Regions from separate parts of the Homo sapiens genome. Here region 1 is linked to region 2. The links come from fine-mapping of genetic effects on gene expression. Tissue or cell type: tibial nerve. Region 2 holds a variant in brackets; the other region holds the start of a gene. All regions are shown on one strand. Distances are from middle to middle.

Region 1 (8,183 bases), 47 kb after region 2:
CCTTAAATTTAACATACCACACAAAATTCCCAAGATTAAAGAGTCTGACAATATACAATCCCATACGATCAACTTAGGCTGCATTTAAAAGATAATTTTTCCTTTGAATGGGCATTTTAGTTATTACCTTCTCAAGTAAAGTTAGCTCAGAGGTTCATCTAGGTGAACGACCAGAAATCAGAGTCGTCACCCTGAGTAACCTGGAAGAAACCAGTTAAATGTGCCATTTCTCATCCTGAAATGAATTATCTCTAAGTCAGGGTATTCAGTCTCTATTAATTGTACTGTCTTAGCATTCAGTTTAAAACAAACAAACAACACACCTCATGACGTCATTTAAGAACACACACAGATGTCTCTTCTAAAGTTATGAGCCAGAGGCCTTCAACAATTTGGTACCACTTCTCTTGGACCACTTCCCTAGCAAAAATATCCAGTGACTTTGGCATAATTACTTTGGCCAATCCAGGGCCAGAATGATCGCTATTCTCTGCCACACCTTTCAGGTACAGAAGTGATGAAACCACTTAAGTAGTTAAGTGGTTGTCTAATCTCTGTATAGTACTATGCACTTACAAAGCCACTAACAGCCATGTCATTCCTTCTAAACACGTTCTACAAGAGGCAACGTGGACACGAGCATCATCCCCATTGACCGAATAACCACCCCAGGCTTTGAGGAGTGAAGTGGCCTAAGGTCACACATCTTTCAGTAAAACAATTGAACAAAATCTTAAATTTTCTCAAATGAGTGCCTCTTTCCATAACATATTAGACAACAGAGTTTGTACTGGGATTTGGGGGTTTTCAGAAAGTTAATGCAAGGAAGGACTGCTCAAGGAGAAGCAACACAATTTTAACTTGGACACTGGCTGCATCTATGCATAAAGGGACTGAGATCTGACTCTTGTCTACTCACCAGCCTTGTCTCCCATCTTGCCAGGCAACCACAACAAATGTTCTTTGTTGCTGTCATTCAGAACCACTAGTGGTGGCCGGGCTCACGCCTGTAATCCCAGCACTTTGAGAGGCCAAGGAGGGCGGATCACTTGAGGTCCGGAGTTTGAGACCAGCCTGGCCAACATAGTGAAACACCGTCTCTACTAAAAATACAAAATTTAGCCAGGCGTAGTGGCACATGCCTGTATGTAATCCCAGCTACTCAAGAGGCTGAGGCAGGAGAATCACTTGAACCTGGGAGGCAGAGGCTGCAGTGAGATGGCGCCTCTGCACTCCAGCCTGGGTGACAGAGTGAGAACTCTATCTCAAAAAAAAAAAAACTACTAGTGGCATCCCAAAGGAGCCCAGTCATCTCAGTGTTTGTGCCTCTGTGCATGCAATTTCCTCTGTCTGAAATGTTCCCCACCCTTTCCTTCTTTGAGCCTTCTTCTACTCGACCTTTATAACTGAGCTCAAATGACACCTCTTTCAGGAGTTGACCTCCTCAATGCTCCTGGAGCACTCTGGACTACCCTACATCATTGTCCTGTCCTGGCTGTTATTCTCATCTGCCCCCTTCCCTAAAGTACTGGGAGGAGGTTGAGGGAAAATAGGAGAGTACAGCTGATATAACTTGGCTTCTCTGGGTATCTGACACACAGATCAGGTACTCAGTAAATGTTTGTGGACTAACCGAATGAACCCACCAATTATCAGGAGAAGCCAAGCCAGGCCTCCCAGATAGAGAAAGAACTTCAGACAACTCAAGTGGAAACTAAGGCTCACTATTTTCACTTTAGCTACCTGGACTTCTTTCCCAATCTGGCATCCCCAGAAGGCCATGAGAACATCATGAAAGCTCAAGTACTATCCTGGAATTACAATCCACGGTAGGTTTGGTGGGGTTTTTCGGTTTTTTCATTTTAATTGGAAAGCCTTTGGTTCTCTGTAAATTCAGAGTTATTTCACATTGTTAACTTGGAAGGCAAAGTGACAGCCACCGTTCTGGAGTATTTCCCAGCGATCAGACAGCAAAACGGTTAAGAGCGTGAACTCTGAAGTCTGGGTTCAAATGTACCATTTGCCAACTGGGTAACTTTGGGTAAGTTACCCTACACTACTTCCCAATAGGACATATAAACTGGAGAGCCTCTGGCCATTCATTCATTCATAAATACCAACTGAGCATCTACTGTGAGTCCGGTGCTAGCGATATAGTGGAGACCCGGCCTTCCAATCTAAAGTACGCTTCCATGGAGTCAGACTGTTCCATTTCCTACACAGCACTTAGCACTATCTGCAATGATCTTGTGTGTTGGTTTGTCTGTCCTCGTCGGAAGGTAAGCTCTGTGAGAGCAGAGGCCTTATCTGTCTTGTGCATCCATCACCTCCCCAGAGCCTCCCACATCACTGGATACACGCAAAAAGAAAGAATGAGCATGTCAGACAAGAACTTTTACCTCGTGGCCCTGGTGAAGGTAGGAAAAAAAAAAAAAAAACAAAAGTAACAACATAGAAAACATAAAGGCACAAATTACAGAGGTAATAGTATCTGGGAGAAACCAGGGTCATGGCTTCCCATCGCCGCAGGTGTTGCTCCAGACAGCTCTGCGGAGAAAAAGGATCCCAGCACCGTGGCAGCCTCCTTGCACCGCAACCAGGAGACAGCATGAGGGACGCAGTGAAAGGAAAATGGGCCCAATCCCATCAGAAGTCCTGAGGAGGTTCATTTGTTGGTTCAACATGTTCATCTGTTGGTTCAACAGGTATTTATTTACTAGGCGTATAATGTGTGCTGGGTACACAGCAGCGAACTGACAAGAGCCTGTCCTCATGCAGTTTCCCTTCTAGTATTGAAACAGTGATTTTGGGTATGAAAAGTGCCGTGCTGACCACGAAACAGTGACGGAATAGGGAATGACAGCAGGTGTGCACGGTGGCTGGGTGGTCACAGCAGGCCTCTCTGAGCAGCTGACACCTCAACTAAGCCCTGAGGTCAACACTGTCACGGAGCAGGGGAAGAAACTTCTAGGCAAAGGCAGCGGCGGAGGCTCACACTAGAGAGGATCACAAACTGGTAAGTTACAAAGTGACAAGTGCCTCGAAGGCAAGTCCCAGGAGGCTGGGGGTCGGGGAGGAGGCGCAGGCCCCGGCTCCCGCACCAGCCCTCTCGGGTCCCGGCCACTCCGGGCAGTTCTGGGGAGCGCGGCGAGCGCCAAGGCCCGGCCCGGCCTCGCCGCCCCCCGCGACAGCGCCGTCGGGGTGGGGACGAGGGCCGACGTCACCCGCCGCGCCGGGCTCCGTCCTTCCAGCACTGGGGCGGAGGCCGCGGGCAGGAAGGTGGCGGCCTCTGGGGCTTACCTCGGAATTTGAGCTCGTGCTGCGGCTCGAGGCTCAGGACCTGCTCCACCTTCGCCATGTTCCTTAGCGGCGGAGCACCTTTGGCGGGGAGACCCCTGAGAGGTCACCGGGGCGGGAAGCGTTAATGCTGCGCCCGCTTTAAGTTTTACAAAAAGGCGGGGACCGGTCGGGGCACGGGCGGGGGTCCTCTACCGGGTGGGCGCGCTGGGGGGGGGTCGGTCTACGCGGTGCAGGCGCAGGGGCGGAGGGCGAGGGCGAGGCCGCGGTGCCCGGCGAGCTGACGGCACGCACGCACGCACGCACGCACGCAGAGTCGTACACACGCACGCACGCAGCAGGCTGGCCCGCTCTGGCGGCGGGAAGCTGCGCCCTGCGCCGCCGGCTCCAGGGGCGGGGACTAAAGCTGCGCGCGTAGAGCCCCTTCCGGGACAGTGCGCAGGCGCGGCACAAGCCACGGGGGCGGGACTGCGGGGCAGTAAGGGGCGGGGCTTCGGGCCGCTCAGGAGGCGGGGTCTGTAGTCCAGCTACGACAGCCACCGCGGAAACTATTAAGGGCCCGCTGGGGGCCAGCTTCGTGTTAAGTGCTTTATTCAATAATAACAATTAGAATAAACTTCCACTTTTCTCTTGCTTATGTAGTGCCAGGCACTGTTAGAGACTTTGAATAATAGTGAAAGTACTTAGTATAAGTATAATGTTTATGGGTGAGTGATATGGGCTAGGCACTGTGACGTCTTGTAAATAATAATTATAAATATAATAAACTACCAATTATTGCTTATTTATTTTGTATCACTCTACTGAATGCTTCCAATAACAACAGCAACTACAATAAATACAAGCTACTCTACGTTAAATGTTTACTATGCAACTGGCACTGTGCTGAATTCTTTACTAGTAAATTCTATTTGTTTATGCAACAAATATTTAGAAATACAATGATCAGAAAAGCGAACCTGATTCCAATCCTTTTACTATAGCCTAGTGAAGAGACATCTTTTGAATAAATAACCACACACGTAAGTTAAATAATTAAAAATTGCTGGAGAATCCAGATCTGCTTGACCTCAAAAGTGGATACTCTACATCATGATTACCGTTTAAATTGTATTTCATTATATTATGTTTACTATGGAAGTTAAATAGGTGTTCTTAATAGTCTCCTATACATACCCATATAGGTGAGACAAATGTGGCAAATTGCTAGCAATGGCTGACTCTACATCGCAGGTATATGGTTTTCTTGTACTGTTTCTCCCACTTTGCTGTATACTTGAAATTTTTCATGATAAAAAGGTTTTTTAAAAGAATAGTCTTTGTATTTTAACTGGAGCATTTAGTCCATTTACATTTATTATATTTACTGATATATCTGGAATTATTTCTACCATTGTATTTTGTTATTTCTATTTGTCCTGCCTGGTTTTTTTCCCCTTTCCTTTCTTCTTTAGGGTTTATTTTTATTCTCATTCTGATTTTCTTCACCTGTATACTCTATTTCTAAGTTTTAGTGGTTACTTCAAACTTTTGGGCATGCATACTTACCTTGTGAAAGTCCAATATCTTTAAATATTTGTAAAAATGTCTTTACCCTGTTTCCTTAAAATATAAAGACTTTGGAGTACTTTAATCACCCATCCTCTAAATTATACACCTTAATGTAGTGTATGTTAAGTTTAACCTTTGCCACTGTAACCCCAAGAGACATTACTAAATTGTTTTATTCAGTCAACATTAGTTTAGATTCAGCCACACAATTACCATTTTTATCCACCTTTTCTTCTTGCATCTCAGCTTTCACCAACAGGATCACTCTCCTTTTGCCTGAGGTAAATCCTTTAAATTTTATTTTTTTGTAGCTTCGTTGGTGCAAATCCTCTCAGTTTCTGCTCATCTGCAAATGGATTCATTTTTGCCTTTTGTTGTTTTTATTTTATTTATTTATTTATTTGGAGATGAGGTCTTGCTCTGTTGCCCATGCTGGAGTGCAGTGGCATGATCGTGGCTCACTGCAACCTGTATCTCCCAGGCTGAAACAATCCTCCCACCTCAGACTCCGGTGTAGCTGGGACTAAAAGCATGCACCACCACGCCCAGCTAATTTTTTTATTTTCTGTAAAATCTCACTATGTTGCCCAGGCTGGTTTCAAACTCCTGGGCTCAAGTGATCCTCCTGCTTCAGCCGCCAAAGTGCTAGGATTACAGGCATGAGCCACTGCGCCTGGCCTTGCCCTTGTTCTTGACAGATATTTTGGCTTGCTTGCTTGAATGACAGCTGTCCTCTCTCAGCACACTTGATTGCCATCCACTGTTTGCCTGTTCCCCCTCATTGCTCCTCAGGAGTCCAGTGACAATCTTAACATCGTTCCTTCATAGGTTGTTGGTCTTTTCTCCCTCTTCTCATGTTCTACAGTTTTACCATGCTGTATCTTTTTTTTTTTTTTTTTTTGAGACGGAGTCTCGCTCTGTCCCCCAGTCTGGAGTGCAGTGACGCCATCTCAGCTCACTGCAACCTCCGCCTCCCATGTTCAAGCGATTCTCCTGCCTCAGCCTCCTGAGTCGCTGGGATTACAGGCACGCACCACCATGCCCAGCTAATTTTTGTGTTTTCAGTAGAGACAGAGTTTTGCCATGTTGGCCAGATGGTCTCAAACTCCTGACCTCAGGTAATCCACCCACCTCGACCTCCCAAAAAGTTGGGATTACAGGCGTGAGCCACCATGCCCAGCTCATGCTGTTATCTTTTTATTTATCCTGCCTTGAGTTCTTTGGGCTTTCTGAATTTGATGATTGGTGTCTTTCATTATTCTTGAAAACTCTCAGACAATACTTTTTTTTTTTCAATTTAATTTTACTTTTTTATTGTGGTAAGATACACATCACATAAAATTTACTCTCTATCATTTTTAAGTATCCAGTGGTATTAACAAGATTCCTATTGTGGTGCGACCTCACCATCATCCATCTCTAGAGCTCCCTTCATCTTGCAAAACTAGAACTCTGTACCCCTTAAGCAATCATTCCCCATGCTCCCTCTCCTAAGCCCCTGGCAACCATCATTCCACATCCTGCCTCTGTGAATTTGACTAGTCTAGGTACTTTTTGTAAGCAGAATCATACAATACTTGTCGTTTTGTGACTGGCTTATTTTGCCCAGCATAAAGTCCCCAAAGTTCATCCGTGTTGTATCATACGTGACAATATCTCTGTTAAATGTTATCTTGGATGGACACAGTGGTTCATGCCTGTAGTCTCAGCAATTTAGGAGGTCAAGGCGGGCAGACTGCTTGAATCCAGGAGTTCAAGACCAGCTTGGGCAACATGGTAAAACCCCATCTCCACAAAAAATACAAAAAAAAAAAAAAAAAAATTAGCCACGCATGGTGGTGCATGCCTGTAATCCCAGTTACTCAGGAGGCTGAGGTGGGAGGACTTGAGCCCAGGAGGTGGAGGCTGCAGTGAACCATTATACCATTGCACTCCAGCCTGGGGTAACAGAGTGAGATCCTGTCTCAAAAAAAGAAGAAATAAAAATAAATGTTATCTCAACCTCGTTCTCTCACTCTTTACATCTTGTAGTGTGATTAGTAGTTATTCAACTAATATTTTTCAAACTGTAGGTTGTTTTCCAACAGTGGCTTATAAAATCAATGTAGTAGATTGTTACCAGTGTTGAGAAAGAACGAGAATATAATATATTGGAGTGTATTGTATTATTTCATGAATCTTTTGTTTCAGTTGTATTTATTAATATACACATATCTATGGAGTGAGTCACAACTAAAATACATTTATTACTGTGGATTGTGAAAGAAAAAGAGAAAAGTCTTGTGCCCTTCTCCATGTCTATTAACCTCTCTATCACATCTTAATCTGTCCTCTTTATGTTCCACGTTCTGGATAGTTCTTCAGATCTTTCTTCTAGTCACTAATTATCTCTTAGGCTATTGATAAACCTGTTTCAGGAGTTTTTCATTTTGTTTATTTTTTTTTAAGCCTATAAGTTCTATTTTGTTCTTTTACATATCCAAGTAGTTATAGGTTGTGTTTTTTCTTTTTTTTTAATTATTATTTGAGACAAGGTCTCCCTCTGTTGCCCAGGCTGGAGTTTAGTGGTGTAATGTTGGCTCACTGCAGCCTCTACCTCATGGGCTCAAGCCATCCTCCCACCTCAGCCTCCCGAGTAGCTGAAACTACAGGTAGGCACCACCACACCCGGCTAATGTTTGAAAGTTTTGTAGAGATGGGATTTCACCACATTACCCAGGCTGGTCTCGAGCTCCTGAGTTTATGCAATCCGCTCGTCTCAGCCTCCCAAAGTGCTGAGATTAATGGCATGAGCCACTGTGCCTGGCCACATTTATAGGTTTTTTAACACTGGTTCCCAGCTCCTCTGCCCTCCCCCAGGGAATGGTGCCATAACAAAGCTTTAGTGTTGGTCTCTTCTGCCGGGTCACTTTGGTAAGGGGAAGCCCATGTTCCTAAGCCCATACAGAGCCTCCACACCTGCCACCATGGCCACTGCATAAATAAGCTCATTGAGCACGCAATGGCACAGCTGTGGGAAAGACTGACTGTTGTCTGCAGAATGTGCCCTCTTGTCCACTCAATTAATAGAGTTGCTGCTGCAGTAGATGTCTTTGAGTGGGCATTCACATGAGACACCAGTGTCTTTTTTTTTTTAATTTAGAGGCGGAGTCTTGCTCTGTTGCCCAGGCTGGAGTGCAGTGGCACGAACTCGGCTCACTGCAACCTCCACCTCCTGGGTTCAAGCAATTCTCCTGCCTCAGCCTCCCAAGTAGCTGGGATTACAGACGCCCACCACCACGCCCGGCTATTTTTTGTATTTTTAGTAGAGACGGGGTTTTACCATGTTGGCCAGG
Region 2 (8,183 bases):
GGCTCCTTCCTTCTCCCCACAGGCAACACCGGAATGGGATCACTCTCAATGGGGGTTGATATTGCCCTCCAGGACACATGTGGCAATATCTGGAGACATTTTTAGTTGTCACAACTGGGAAGTACTACCAGTATCAAGAGGGCAGAAGCCAGGGATGCTGCTATTAATAAAACACCCTACAGTACACAGGGCAACCTCCACCACCACCAAGGATTTGCCCCAAATATCAACAGTGTTGAGGCTGAGAAATCCTCATCTAAAAGCAGCCTTTGATTGAAGAGGTAGATAGGGTAAAAGGGGTAGGGAGGCTGACAGGGCACTTTGTAAAACAAGAGAACTTGAAAGCTTCCCACACGTCCATCAACCACCATGATAAAGGGCAAATTGTTCCCTCTTTCACTCTCACCCACTGTTTAACAGCAACCTATACCTTTGCCAGGCCACAGAAGCTCTTCAGGATTTATGACATCTCAATGGCCATCGGGCTGCACTTTTCAAGGGGAAACACTGTCAATCAGTTGTCTTTCCGTGAGTTTTTCAAAGGCTGATTTCATAAAGGCCCACTTATTTGCTGACTTCAGCTTATTTTTTTTCTTCAGACATCAGATAAAGGAAAATAATTTGCCAACTTAAATCTTGGTTTTGCAGGAAATGGTATGCAAATAAGTATCAGCTTACAACATTCAATTATTGTTAACTATAAATATACTTACTGGTTTATCATTCTCTGCTGGCAATTCAAACACACATCTAAGTTTTGAATCCATAAGGTCTTCCGGTTTTGCCTCCTTCCACTAAAACAATTTAAATTTAATAATCAAGATATTATAAACCTGCTGGAAGAATAACTTTCTTCCTATAACTGACAATTTCAGAAAAATACTCTTAATGAGAAAGCCCTGATGTATATCAAATAAAGAACTGAAGTCTGCTGAGATTTCAATATTTGTAACATGACAAGATTAAATACACTCACTTTCTCAAAATATTACACTTCATAAACCCTGAAGTCTTGCTGCCTGACTCCTCAAAGTCAACCAATGCTCCCCATGTTGCTACTCTGTGGGACAGGCCCACCACTGAACAAAAAGGAATCCTCTAAACAATGTCTGGATGACCAGGTAACCTTGGCTCTCCTTATGAAAATAAAACTTGTTTTCAGCTGGGCATGGTGGCTTATGCCTGTAATCCCAGCACTTTGGGAGGCTGAGGTGGAGGGACTGGTTGAGCCCAGCAGTTTGAGACCAGTCTGCACAACGTAAGGAGACGTCATCTCTACAAAAAAATTAAAAAATTAGCTAAGCATGGAGGCACATGCCTGTGGTCCCAGCTACTCAGGAGGCTGAGGAGGGAGGATCACTTGGGCCCAGGAGGTGGAGGCTGCAGTGAGCCATGATCATGCCACTGTACTCCAGGCTGGGGGACACTGAGAGACTCTGTCTCAAAAATAATAAATTAAATTAAAATGAGAAAATGAAACTTATTTTAAAGGCATATCTAGAAAGTATAAGCGCATACTATCTGGGACTAGTTTCAGAACCACTCTGCCAACTACCAACGGAACACATTCATTACCAAATCCCTCCTCTGTCACTGTGGCAGTGTGTGGGCTGTGTCTACCCCAAGACCCATCTCCATCCCTCCAGGCTGTAGTGAGAGCACCTTCCTAGCTAAATCCCATGTCCTAAGAGGATACGCTCCTGATTACTTCTCCTTTTGGCAGCAGAAGATGGGAATTCCAGGGTATTCTAGGATTACAGACCAGGATAGCAGCAAGGTTATGATATAGAAAAAGAAGGCACCCCCACCCTCCATGCCCTCAACCCTTCCCAAAACCATGCAAGAGGCAGCTACTGTAACACAGGTACCAAGAACCAAAAGTGGGAAGCAATCTATACATCTGACCCTAGGGGACTGCCACAAAAATTATGGCAGATCCACTAAACGGAACAGCATGCTGCCACTCAAATGATGCTGAAGAGCACTCAGTTAGATGGAGAAAATGTCCAGAATGTTAAGTGAAAAAATCGCAAAGAATACTGAAGTCTGCTCCTCTGCACACACACACCTGTACACGTGTGCCTACCACATAAGTCAAAAAAAATATCAAGCAAGGATCATCACTGAATGCTAAAAGCACCAGGTGAAAGACTGCTGGCGAGCAGGATATTCACATGGTCTCAAAGTATCAGATGACTCAGAGTATCACAGATTACCTATTAACCACAGGGGCAAATGTGCTTTGTGCTATGACAGTGGAGAGAGCTGGCAGTCACCATCTTAACCAAGTGATCAAACAGCATCACCAACAGCGGAACAACCTGGTATGAAATACCAACTATGGAATATTCTTGCCAAAACACATTTAACTTGAATTTAATCATGAGGAAATAATCAAATAAATCCAGAATACAGGACATTCTGTAAGTCAACTGGCCTGGACTCTTAAAAAAAAAAAGAAGTTCAAAGTTTGGGCAGGGTGCAGTGGCTCACACCTGTAATCCCAGCACTTCGAGAGGCAGAGGCAGGAGGATCACTTGAGCCCAGAAGTTCAAGACCAGCCTGGGCAACATAGTGAGACCCCAACTCTATAAAAAAATAAAAAAATAGCCGGCATGGTGGCATGCCTGTAGTTTTAGTTACTCGAACAGCTGAGGTGGAGGTCAAGCCATGACTGCACCACTGCACTTCAGCCTTGGTGACAAAGCAAGACTTTGTCTCAAAAAAAAAAAAAAAAAAAAAAAAAGTTCAAAGTTTGAAAAACAAAAAGGTTTGGGTGTCCTCTACTAAAGGTCACTTTTGGAACAACTAGGAAATAATGAATATGAATTTATCACATAATAATACTGAATTGAAGTTACTTTTTTCAGCTATGATTAATAGTATCATGACTATATAAGAGACTGTCCTTGCTCTGAAGCATTTAGGGGTGAAGTGTCATAAATTTGCATCTCAAGCAAATAAGAAAGTTTGTGACAGAAAGGAAGCAAATGTCACAACATGTTAACAAATGTAAATCTAGGTAAAAGTTATATGAGTGGTCACCATGCTATTTTTTCAACTTTCTGTATATCACAATAAAAAGAAAAACATTTTAAAATAAAGAAAAAGCAGGCTGGGGCAGTGGCTCATGCCTGTAATCCTACCACTTTGGGAGGCTGAGGTGGGCAGATCGCTTGAGTCCAGGAGTTTGAGACCAGCTTGGGCAACATGGAGAAAACCTGTCTCTACAAAAAAATTAGCCAGGCATGGTGGTGCGCTCCTGTGGTCCCAGCTACTTGGGAGGCTGAGGTGGGAGGATCACTTGAGCCCAGGAGGTGGAGGCTGCAGCGAGCTGAGATCACTCCACTGCATTCCAGCCTAGGTGACACAGTAAAATCATGTCTCCAAAAAAAAAAAAAAAAAAAAAAAGGAAGAAAAACACAAAGCTCTCATTTCTCATTAATGATGGTTAGGCCTAGTAGAAAAGAACTATGGGTCACTTTAAATTTTTTTCATTTGTGTATTTCCAAAATTTCCCACAATGTACATTTTATATAAAAAAAATTTAAACTTATATCATCATACAAGGAACTAAAATGACCCTTTACTAGATATGCAGTGACTGGCCTATTACACACTCTGATAAGCAAGTGTCAGACACTGGACCCACCAGGCACTTACACAGGCACACTTCATACTCACCACTGTGTGAGCTGCATTTTTATCCCTATTTTACAAATGATCAAAACCTCAACAGAGTTAATAAAACCTGCTCCCAGCCACAACGTCAGTAAAAGGAAGAACTCAGCTCGAAAACACCCAAGCCCATGCTCTTTTCACTATGCCATGCAGCAGAAGCCAAACAGAACACACCCTTGGATCTTCCATTATTTTCTATCTGCCATGTTTCTTTGATCACACAAATTAACATGAAGTAACACATCATGTTGCAGAAAATCAGAGAAAGTTTTCATAAGAATTGTTCTTATGAAAAGAAGACAGCCTATTATCACTGATCTCTCTAAAAGTCAAAAATATCTGGCCTCCTCCTTCATTTTCTGCCTACAAGTGAAACATCAGCGGAGATGCTTCTCCAGAACTTAAACAAAAGGCTATGTGGTGACATAGGGCATGGGGTGGTCTTGGCCTGAGTTGCCCTTGGTATGAAACTCAGACAGAGGAGAACTGCAGTATGGTGTGATGAACAGCGGACTCAGGTGGGCAGACCTGCCGTGGATGACTCGGGGCTCCCCTTTGGGCGGGCCAAAACTGGAGAGCAATGCAAGTGGTATGAGGCAACCCTGTCCTGCTTTCCTGAACTGTAAGGACAAGCGCATCTGTCCCTGCTGGGGCTGTGGGTTGTATTGTAGATTTCAATTCAACTCCCAGCCCCAGAATGCCAATGGACTTATTCAAATGTATAAAAAGCTCGTTTTGGAGGGAATGTCCATTATACTCTTTTTTTTTTTTCCAAAACCATCACTAACATCACTTATTTCTTTTATAAAAATGAAGTCATCTTAATTTTATCAAAATTAGAGAAAAGTTAAACATAGATTTAAGCAGGGGGGAAAATAAATAAGCATATTTACTAGAACAAAGCCACAAACATGTATGTCTAAATGGGTGAGGACATTCAGCACTGACACTCTCACATGGCTCTTGAGTTTGTGGGGGATGAGAAGACAAGTAAGAAAAAGGCGGGACAATGAAAAGTATCCTTTTCTGTCGGGGCAGAAAGGAGAGGCGAAAGAAGGCAATCCCTAACCATGCAAGACACCATCCACCAGTGCAAGGAGCTGCTGAAGCACACTGAGCTCAGGAAAGTCAGAAAAGAACAGCCTTCTAGAAAGTCACAAAAAATGTTAAAATTATTCCTCAAAGTTTTAGAAAAACCATAAAGGTAGATAAAGTACAAACCTCCTTGAAAAAAAACTATTCCCTTTTAAATAATTTTGACATATTTTGAAATGCATGCACCCACAATTCCATATCTAATTGGTTTTTTAAATTATT[G/A]TTACTGAAAAAAATAAGAAGCATTCAGTACTTACTACTGCTTCCATATCTGAAGTGTCAGTTGGAGCAAACATAGACTGAACCATAAACTTGTGTTTACTTTTCTCATTGGGATCATAATCGAAAGGCTGTAACATCACTGAGAAAGAAAATATTTCATTAGGAGGGTCAGAGCTTGGTTGTCAGTGCCATTTATTATGCTAATACTTGTACTTTGGTTGTAAAGCAATTTACCGGCATTCTCTTATGTCTTAGGATGGACGCCCCTGGTGAAGTAAGCAAGGATGACCAACATCTCCATTTTGCAGGTCACCAACCTAAGAGCCACAAAATCACGCATGACAGAGCTGGGAATAAGGCCGAGGACCCAGTCTTCTGATTCCTAGTCCATGGATCTTTCACTACTGCAAGCCTACCGTAAATGTCTGCTACAGGCCTTACAGAATTGGGAAACTGGGTAGCAACACCATCTGCCTGTTTTGCTCAAGAAAACATATCCAAATGATCTCTTCAGGAATTAAATAGAATAATCTAAGATGTTTAAGAACATTTAAGGAACTGTTGTAGCTTCTCTCCAACCCATTTCTCATATAGCTAATCAAGGTAATCCTTGAAATACAATTTTGCCAACATAAAGCTAGAAAATTTTTACAATCAGGACACTCACACAGCAGGGAAAACGGTATCAGCTTATACTCCCCCTTTTTTTTCCCTAAGAACCTAGAGAAATCTCACACAGAGGATCCTGTGGATGAGTCACACCCACTGCATGGAGGGAGGTGCCTTCCTACCCCAAGTGGCTCCCTTCAGCCTACTTCCTAGAGTACAGCTGGGCCTACTCCTATCAAATGATGGCTGCTTTAAAATATGTTACTTTGCTACAAGGCTTTGGCTAACCCACACATCTAGTTAAGTTCCCTGAGACAACTTCACATGCAGGGAAAGCCTACTGTGGCCTTGACCACAACAGTGGGCATGGACTGAGTATCTCCATGTGCCAGAAACTGGGCTCTGTCCCTTAGGTTTACCATCATCTCATTTAATCCTTAAAAAGTAGGTACTATTGTTGGGGGAGAGGGGCTATTCTGGTGTCTACTTTTCACATGAAAAGAATGAACACAGAGAGGTGAATTTGCCCAAGGTTACACCTTGGTGGAGTGCAGACTCAAACCCAGGCAGTTGGTGTGGGGACCTAAGTTCACAGCCACCACAAAGGACTGGTGCCTTGTCCTCTGACAGTACAAGTCTTATGCTTCTCACCAGCAGGGCTTCTACCACCTTTCTGCTGGGCCCTCATCAGCATTCTCTTGCCTTGAAACCCCAACTTAGGACTTCCCAGGTGCTTCCTCTAGAGCCACACAATCAACCACAGCCAGCAGCAGATAGAAAGCAGGATAGCCGTGGTCTACAAATGAAGAATCTGGGATTCCACAAAGTGAAGTGGCTCCCTCAAAGTCACAATGTTAAGAAGTGGCAACACTGGGACAAAGAGCCAAGACTTGACTACAAGTGCAGTCTAGCACCCCTTTCACCACACTAGTCACTCCAATATGAGCTAGATTTATATCTGGCACCCAGGCCCCACGACAAAGCTAATGGAACCATTCACAAAACAGGATAGAAATACCAACCTCCCCCATCCATCTTAGGGATGCAGTAGCACTCTTCACCATGGGAACAGAGAAAGTCCACTGAGACCTAACCATGCATTGGACTTAAATGCACTGGTGTCCCTAGTCACCCAGACAGCTTCACTGCCCACAAGACCCACCTGAAGGCCCTGAGCTACAAGGAAGCCTTGCTGGGAGACTTCTTCAGGACAAAATTCAATAACTGTCAGAGAGTAAACCTTTTATCAACATAACTCTTTCTCTGGCATCACTGAGCTGGCAAGAGCTGACCTTTCCTACAGACAGACCTGGAACATTTACCGACCTGGGCTTGACACTTAACCTCAGGGACAAATGACCAGACTGGCAGGTCAATGCTTTTTCTGAAAGCCAAATTCCCAATGTGTTTTTTTCCTGCCCCTAAGATTGCAATAACGAAAACACACATTTTAAAGTAAAGAGCCAATGTCTTTACATGCTCTGTGAACCTTCCTGGACAGGGACTGTCAACCTTCTTTGGAGCTGGGATTCACTGTTAGATTAATGTTCCCTTTCTAAAATTAAAGTGAATTCAGTTTTAAGAATTTCAGGTCTTCCTTGGCTGTGACAAAATCATGCTCTGGTATTTTTCAGTTTAGGAAAGAAGAGAACTTTGACCTGAACTACTCTTAGATTTTTGGCAGGGCACAGATCTAGTAGTAAACACCGTCTTACCCTTGAGACTCTGTTCTCCCAGCTGTGAACAGCTATTGCACCACTCCCAAGTCTACCACTCTGGAGAGCTCTGAGGAGGAACAAGGTTTATTTGTAAAGATCCCTGATGCTCACATGACAGCAATCCAAGGAAAATGCTAATTTTTAGAGAAGCTATTTAGATGAAATACAAAAACCAATGGGTCCAGAGAACAGAACACACCCCCAAAAAACAGCCCCAGGAAGCTCTGCCTGCCCCTTCCCATTCATCACCTTCCTAGAGGCAGTGGGAGTAAAAAAGTACAGCCAAGAGCACTGTGTCCAGAGCTCTGCCTGGGTTCTAAGAATGCCCCAAGGGAAAACAGGTCCTTCCTTTCCATTTCTCCATCATCCCTCAGCTTCTTCATCCCCAATACTTTCATGATGGCCCAAGAAGGAAAGAAAGGAAAAGAATCTTTACTCATGCCTCCTGTGTAATAGGTACCATAGAAGGCAAATTCTCCTTAGTGCTCCCATTTACTACTCACAACAATCCATCCAAGCAGCACGTCTCCTTTTTCAAGATAAAAAGATAAGGGCTGCCAGGCATGGTGGCTCACAACTGTAACACCAGCACTTTGGGAGGCCAAGGCGGGAGGATCACTTGAGTTCAAGACCAACCTGGGCGACAAAGCAAGACCCCATCTCTACCACAAAAAAATTAGCTGGGCATGGTAGCCTATAGTCCCAGCTACTTGAGAGGCTGAGATTGAGGTGGAAGGACTGCTTAGGCCTGGGAGATGGAGGCTGCAGAGAGCTATGATAGCACCACTGAACTCCAGCCTGGGTGACAGAGCAAGACCCAGTCTCTTAAAAAAAAAGAAAAAACAAAAAAAAAAACAA

What was found. PIP is the estimated chance that this variant, and not a neighbour inherited with it, causes the effect.
Region 1: VAPB starts here. The variant in region 2 is fine-mapped to the expression of VAPB in tibial nerve (GTEx, PIP above 0.99). The same link has a PIP of 0.9 or more in stomach, tibial artery and whole blood.

What each region holds. Positions count from the first base shown.
Region 1 is chr20:58,384,635-58,392,817 of GRCh38, reverse strand. VAPB (VAMP associated protein B and C) reads right to left here and starts at 3,589. Exons shown (of 6, transcript NM_004738.5): 1 at 3,301-3,589. The coding sequence starts at 3,358. RefSeq lists silencers at 3,061-3,180, 3,441-3,880.
Region 2 is chr20:58,431,556-58,439,738 of GRCh38, reverse strand. It overlaps VAPB (VAMP associated protein B and C), which reads right to left. Exons shown (of 6, transcript NM_004738.5): 3 at 5,034-5,137; 4 at 714-794. Among named protein-coding and RNA genes, the nearest start is that of VAPB, 46 kb to the right of the region's middle. The variant G/A (reference allele first, on the strand shown) is at 4,999.